2 linked regions of the Homo sapiens genome follow. The protein of the gene in region 1 purifies or fractionates together with the protein of each later gene. This does not show direct contact. Each region holds a gene or a part of one and is shown on either strand. Other genes may lie near its edges.

Region 1 (3,451 bases):
TTAATTATGTTGTAATGGTAAATACTGGATTTGGGCTGCTATTTTAATGGTATTTATTCTGCATAATATGCATAATATATCTATGTGGTCCCATATTCATTTATCCTATTTAGAATTGCTTTCTTTTTTCTTTTTTTTTTTTTTTGAGACGGCATCTTGTTTTGTTGCCCAGGTTGGAGTGCAGTGGCACGATCTCGGCTCACTGCGATCTCCGCCTCCCGGGTTCAAGCAATTCTCCTGCCTCAGCCTCCTGAGTAGCTGGGATTAGAGATGTGTGCCACCACGCCTGGCTAATTTTTGTATTTTTAAGAGAGATGCGGTCTCACCGTGTTGGCCAAGCTTGTCTCAAACTCCTGACCTCAAATGATCCACCTGCCTCCCAAAGTGCTGGGATTACACAGGTGTGAGCCACCACCCCCAGCATTTCTTCTATTTAGAATTTCTAAGAGCAAGCAGAATGTCATTTCTCTAACTATTAAATGATTATCCAGAAGCAAAAGTACAGCACAGGAAGATAATATTTATTATATTTTAACTAGAAACAGAGCAGATAGCAAGTTCACCAGGTAAAAATTTTTTTTCTTAAATTATGCTTAAACAACAATAATAAAAAACAAGTCTGCATGTATATTTTGGTCACTATTATGATCTTCCAGGGCACAAAAGCCAGCAGCATAAAGAAACATGAATAATGACTGAGAATTTTTGATGTGCCAAAAACAAAGATCACTGCATTAAACTCCTTTATTTTGTTAATATTATTCTTAAACATTGAACAATTATTAATTATTGTTATTTGGCAAAATATCAAACATGCACATAGTATTCCTACAAGAATATTGCCTTAATATTGTCAATATTAACGCTAAGCTTATTCCTCTCCAAAATTCAATGAGTTATGGTTCCGCTCTCTATATGTATTAGTGTTAGTGGTAATATGCAAAACTGATTTTGTTTTCAGGGTTAAGTAGCAGATTGACTTCGCATTTGGTGGCCAGCTGTGTACCCTAATTTTTCATCTATTTTCTTAATAAATTTAATTACATTTCATAAGCCCTGAGATAACGTGCTAAGGATTGTATACTTTTAATCTATACTTTATTCCACTCAATTTGAACCCCACATAATAAGTCTTTTAAGTTATTTACAGATGGTTGTAACTAAAGCAATGACAAAATTTACTACTTGTATAGGTAAGACTGATAATAAGGCCTTTAACTAAGAGTTGCATATTTTATATGCACTTTTAACTTGCTAGGAGCAACTCTTAAAATTACATCTATAATTCTGTCAGAAAGCAATAAGTGCTTTTCATTTTGCTTACTTCCATATGTGTAACCAGATTCACTTTTTTCCTCCCTTGTAAAACAACTACTTTCTTTTCCTTCCCCAAATATTAATACGTCTTCCAACTGAACAATTGCTAAAAGGAACTTAGCATTTGCACAGCACATTGACAACTATGGTGCTTAGCAGAGACATATGCCCATAATAGGCATCTGATAAATGTTTGTTCCACATGGAATGAGTGAATTGTAAGGCAGCTGTTTGAGTCATACACTGTTCATCATATACTGCAACTAATTTTATTTAACTAGGAAATTCAGTTTACCAGATTTAATTTACCCTCAAGTGTAAATCCAAAAATTTGAAATTAAAAAAAATTGATTTACTAATCCTCAGAAAAAGTAAACAAGTTAATCATAGTTGTTACTATACTATTAGTTGATAGAAAATTAAAAAAATTATTACTTTCCACTAAATATTAAGTACAACTGAGGGGAAGAAAGTTTAAAAAAACTTAAAAATGTTAGCTAATTCTCATCATTTTCTCCACATTTATCCTTGCAGCTTTTTTGTTCATATATTTATTCCTGTTAACTTCTCTAGCTGAAAGAGAATTTTATTATCTGAATGGAGTTCCCCATCACCTTAGGTACAAAATATTAGTGAAAAGCTGGTGTAAATATAAGATTGTATTTTCATGTCATGCCATATTTCTAAATTTATTTTTTGCTAGCATTAAATTTTTCCTATTTAAACGATGCTGTATAGAATATGAGCTAATCTGCCAATTACTATGATATTGCTTGCTTATAATATTCAGTTTTTGTTGATAGCTTTAAAGCATATTGCACGCTTTTCATCTAGCACACTAGTAAACAACTATTACTCTTTTTGGAAAGGATACACTGACAAATTCTTAAGTTAATGGCTTTAGCCCAACATTTTTAGTCAGTTAAAGAACAATAGCAATGGCAAAAACGTTGACAATACAGTTCATGGTCCGGTTCTCCCATCTTACGGTACAGGTTCCTGAAACACAAAAAAAGGATTTTGAAATACCAGCAAAACATAAAAATTATCAGAGAATATATATATATATATACACACACACACACACACACACACATATACACACACACACACACACACACACACACACACACACACATATATATATATATATATACACATACATTTTTCACATGTTTTAATATCTTATTTCCTTCAACCTGTTAAGTTTTCACATTTCATATCGGTCTGAAGGTATACTTGTTACTAGGTACAAAGCAATACTGTTGATAGTCTTTTCAGAATTTAATCAGAATTAAATAAGTACTTGGTTAAAAAGTGCAGTTTGACTTTGCTAAAAGTTGGATTTTGTGTAAATCAGCTTAAGATCTCTTACCATCAGATGTGGTATCCCAAAAACAGGAGCTGGCTGTGTGAAAGCCATATGCGCTCTTCTGGACCACTGCACAGGTCACTGCAAATAAAGTCACAGAATGAGGGCACTTACAGACAAAGGAAAAGAGAACCAAGGTCAAAGTGTGTGAGTTCAGAGCTCTACAAGCCGAAAACAAGACAAAAAACAAACAAACAAACAAAAAACAGAAAACAAAGCGTTCAGCAAATAGATTGAAAAAAAAATAAAAGACTCTCATCTTTATCTACCATCATGATTTTGACCCCACTGGATTCAGTTGGTTTTCTGACCATTGTCATTACCATTGGTGATTGTATTGCAGGAAAAATATCAGTCAAATTCTGTGCTTTGTACCATGGGCAGAATTCAGACACAGAAATGCAGGAAATACTCCACTTTATAAACAGTTGCTGTGTGGAATTACAGGTAAAGAGGCATGGGACTACCGAAAGAAACACAGTTGAGCTAAGGGGGGGTCTCAGTGGAAAGAAAGAACTGATGGAAATGCAAAGGGTGATGCTACCAAAGAAAAGTAGCTCAAACTGCCTTTGAGTAGTGAAAGATCTTCATCTTTTAAGTATTATTATAGATTATCTTTGAATGAGTAAATCAGAAGTCCTTTATACCCTTTTAGTATCCAACTTAAATGTCTATTGTACATATACCTTCTCAAAATTCAGAGAAAATCACAATGACAAAAGCAAGTGAACTAGTGAGGAAGGATACTGATACTTACCAATA
Region 2 (3,833 bases), on another chromosome or scaffold:
GCCTCATCAGTATATTTGCTTTCATTCAATAGATATTTATTGTGTACCTGTTATGTTTCAGGCACTGTGTAAAGAACTGAGTATACAATGGTAAACAAGAAAGCAAGATTCCCTGCCCTCATGGAGCTTACATTCTAGTGGGGCAGTCAGTCCCACCCACCCACACACATACATAAAGCCAAAAAGCAAAATAAGTTTAAAGAGTTGTCATCGATACAAAATAACAAGGGTGACCTGCTTTCCATGGAAAAGGAACGTGTTTTTTTTTGTATCAGGAACCGAAAGATGGCCAGTGTGGCTGGAGCATCGTGCACTGAAAGGAGGATGGAGTGGAATGACACTGGAGAGGTTCGCAGGGCCCTGTTCATGTAAAGCAATAAAATAAAGGCATCAGAATTCATTTTAAGTCTTTGGGAAGCCAGTGAAGAGGTTTAAGTTACGAAGTCATGTGATCTGGGTTGTGTGTTAAAAGTATCCCTCTGGCTTCTTTGTGAAGAGGAGGTTGGGAGGCAGAGGGTGAGCCAAGAGGTGGGGTCAGTCTTCCGGGTCAGAGATGACCATGGCCCAGACCAGGCTGATGGCAGTGCAAGAGCAGAGAAGTCTTTCCTCTTCTCCATCTCCAAATTACTGAATTATTTCAGGCCCTCATTCTATCTCATATTGACCTTTGCAAAAGCCCTCCTGGGGCACACCTCTGGGTTTATATGCTCCTAATCTGTCCTCCACACTGCCTGCCAAATAAATTTTGCCCCTCTTCTGCTCAGAGACTCCAACTGCCCAGCCCCCATTCACCCCCATTGTCTTATAAAGTTTCTCAAAAAGATGTGAAGGATATGTCACAATGACCCAGGAGCAGTTTCAAATACTCCTGACCTGGTTCCACCTGACATACAGAGCCATGATCTCTATATTTTTAAGCAATTCTCCAAGAGGTGCAAATAAACTACTCTTTTATCTTCCCTGTCACCCCCAGAAACCCAGGCCTAAAAGAAATAACTTAGCTAAACCCAAGATCTGTCCAGAATTGCCACAGCTGGCCTAATTTCCGCTCACACTCTATATCTCACCATCTCCTTCCTGTTATATCTTTTATGTTCTTCCTTCAATTTGGAAGGAGAGAAAATATCTTCTTGCATTTTCTAGGAGGGCAAATAGGTAAATAGGTGATTATAAGACAACAAGGTGGATACTTTGGTACAGGGCTGAATTATCAAAAGATGTCAGAAAAGGTAGTAAGATTCATTCTGAATCCTCCAGTAAGTGGAACAGGGTTTATAAAATAAGATTTTGATGAATTAATGAATGAATCAATGAATGAATGATGACTAGAAACAATAACCATTACTTGAGGAAAAGAACAGAAGCATGTTCCTTCTTTTAGCTGCATAGATGGTATAAAACAGTGATTACTTTAGAATAAGGAAGGACCGTTTAAATTAAGACTTCTTTTAAGGCAATGTGCTCCAAATGAAAAAGGACTCCACTAGTTGGGAAAGACATTTTATTTCCAAGTTTCTAAGAGTGTTCTACAAACAATAGAGGCTTAACGAAAAAATAAAAGGTAAAAAAAAAAAAAAAAAAGAAAAAGAAAAACAAGTATTCTTAACTACTGAAAAGTAAACAGCCTTTTTAAAAAAGACTTCAACATAAAAATGCGAAAATGTAGTTGTCATCTCTAATCCAAATACATTCCTAGAGAAAAGGATCATCCATGGTGACAGGGTTACTTACAGCTGTATACTTATTTAAATGCTATTCATATTCCTTTTGAGTTATTTCTTCATTGCAAATTCAATTGGAGATCTGTGCAAATCTAGCAAAATATTCTTTGGATTACAAAAACTATATAAAAAAATGAACACAACCTGCAATTATGGAAGTATTGAGAATGTGTAATCCTTCACTGAGATGAAAGATTCTAAAGTGACATTGTCCACAAAATGTATTCCATTGAAGTGTTCAGCCCAATTTGATTTCAATGCAAAGTAAAATGGAAGTGAGCACTTCATAAAAAACATTTCTTTGTATGCATGTTGACTAAATCATAAAAATAGTACATAACATGATATCAAGAAATGCTTGAAACAAACTTTCACAATAAAGTCAGAAAAAAACTGTAAAAATTGTCTGCAATCCAAGAAAAAGCACGTGCCCTGTGTGTAGGGGGAAAGAGGGAAAGCACTTGCAGTGTGACTTTATGTGGTCTTTCCCCAAGTATTGCTACGTTTTGACCTTTGGCCCAACTGAACAGGTGAAATGCCCTTCACATAAGTTTCAATCCCCAAGAAACTAGCTGGAATGCAGGGGACTGTAGACACACTCCTGGACCAAATGGCATCGACTCTCAGAATCCAAAATGGTCCCTGCCCTCATTCTGAGCTTACGGCCCCAAGCATATTCTAAACAAAGCTTTTTTAAATGAATCGCCCATTCTCATTAAAACATAAAATGCCACATCATTTTACAATTAGTTAAAATTACAGGAGGAAAAATAAGCAGTTTCAACTATCAAGAGTCTTACAATAGCCTGGTAAGTTCAACAGAAGAAAAAATAGAATAACATTAGAGTCTGGGCAAATTTATATTTTTGACTCTAGTCCCCCAGTTCCCCAGTGCTCAGTGTGGGGCATAGAATGTATACCTGGAACATTAGAGTTCTGATAGCTCCATTCCCTCATGGATTCATCTCTCATAACCATCAAATTACTGATATACAAGATAAATGCATACTATATAACACATATTGCAAAGTCATAGACTGACCTAGTTCTTTCACATCCTTCTTTTTTAGAAGATGTGTGTGAAGAGAAGCCAGGAGGTTAACACCAAGAATGTACAAAAAAGCTTTACATGATGTTACAGAATCTTGTCTGAAAAAACATTTGTAAAACATATTTGATTTTAAATAAACAATAAAAGCAGCAGACAGACAACAACAGATCATAAATAGGGTTATTAAAAGATCACAATTAAATTAGAAATATAAATGGATCATTAGAAATACTTAACGTTTGTTTCAATGTTAAGAATCAAACCCAGAATTAAAAAAAAATCTTTTTTTATTTCAAAGATTGCTTCTTATATTGAAGCTCATATTAAAGCAACAGTACAATGTTCATAAAATATAAGTGTGATGCCGTAACATTTTCTTACATGTCAGAATACTGATATTTATACGTATACTAAAATAAGAACTTTAAAATTGTACAAATAGATACATTAAAAATGACATAGAAATAGGGCGTCTCTCACTGAAACAAGACAGTTATATCTGGCACGTATTAGTTTAAGATGAAAGTAGAAGCAAAAAGATTTACAAGAATCAGCAGTAACAAGATTGATGCTCAAGAGACATAATTGTACATTGTATTGTACATACATTGTATGGGTTTAAGCTGGCTGAATATTATATATTTCAAGTTTAAAAATGCACTACATATAGAGTGTCCAGAGTTTAAGGCGAAATTACAGCTCAGAACTGTTGTCCTTTCTAATTTTGTGGAAGCTTCTTTGACAACTTAAAAAAGAAGAAAGACTTGGATGTTCATAACACATAAACAATTTCCCTTCATTGTCAGTTCAGCGTTAGACTTCTCCTTCACTTAAATATTTTGTATGCCAAGTGTTTTTTTTTTCTAGCGAAGTTGATAAACAACTTCAATATTTGCCTTTTTGTGAGAAAAGGTATTTCACAGTATTTACCACTTTGATGTCCTCGCAGTTTTATTAAATGTATCCTCTCTGTAAAACTTTGCCTGTTTTAAATGAGCCTTTCCTTGATTTAAAAAAATACCTGTTTACACATCTTCTAGATTCTTGAGAACGCCAGACAC

Evidence for each region.
Region 2: the proteins of DYNLT3 (region 1) and CDH11 fractionate together in Homo sapiens (co-fractionation; one large-scale study listed by BioGRID). This does not show direct contact.

Annotation. Positions count from the first base shown.
Region 1 is NC_000023.11:37,838,336-37,841,786, forward strand, and holds the end of DYNLT3 (dynein light chain Tctex-type 3), read right to left. Parts: coding exon 3,447-3,451; intron 2,771-3,446; coding exon 2,693-2,770; intron 2,317-2,692; coding exon 2,240-2,316; 3' UTR 501-2,239; downstream 1-500. UniProt on the Homo sapiens protein: Acts as one of several non-catalytic accessory components of the cytoplasmic dynein 1 complex that are thought to be involved in linking dynein to cargos and to adapter proteins that regulate dynein function.
Region 2 is NC_000016.10:64,943,739-64,947,571, forward strand, and holds the end of CDH11 (cadherin-11 isoform 1 preproprotein), read right to left. Parts: 3' UTR 15-3,833; downstream 1-14. UniProt on the Homo sapiens protein: Cadherins are calcium-dependent cell adhesion proteins. They preferentially interact with themselves in a homophilic manner in connecting cells; cadherins may thus contribute to the sorting of heterogeneous cell types.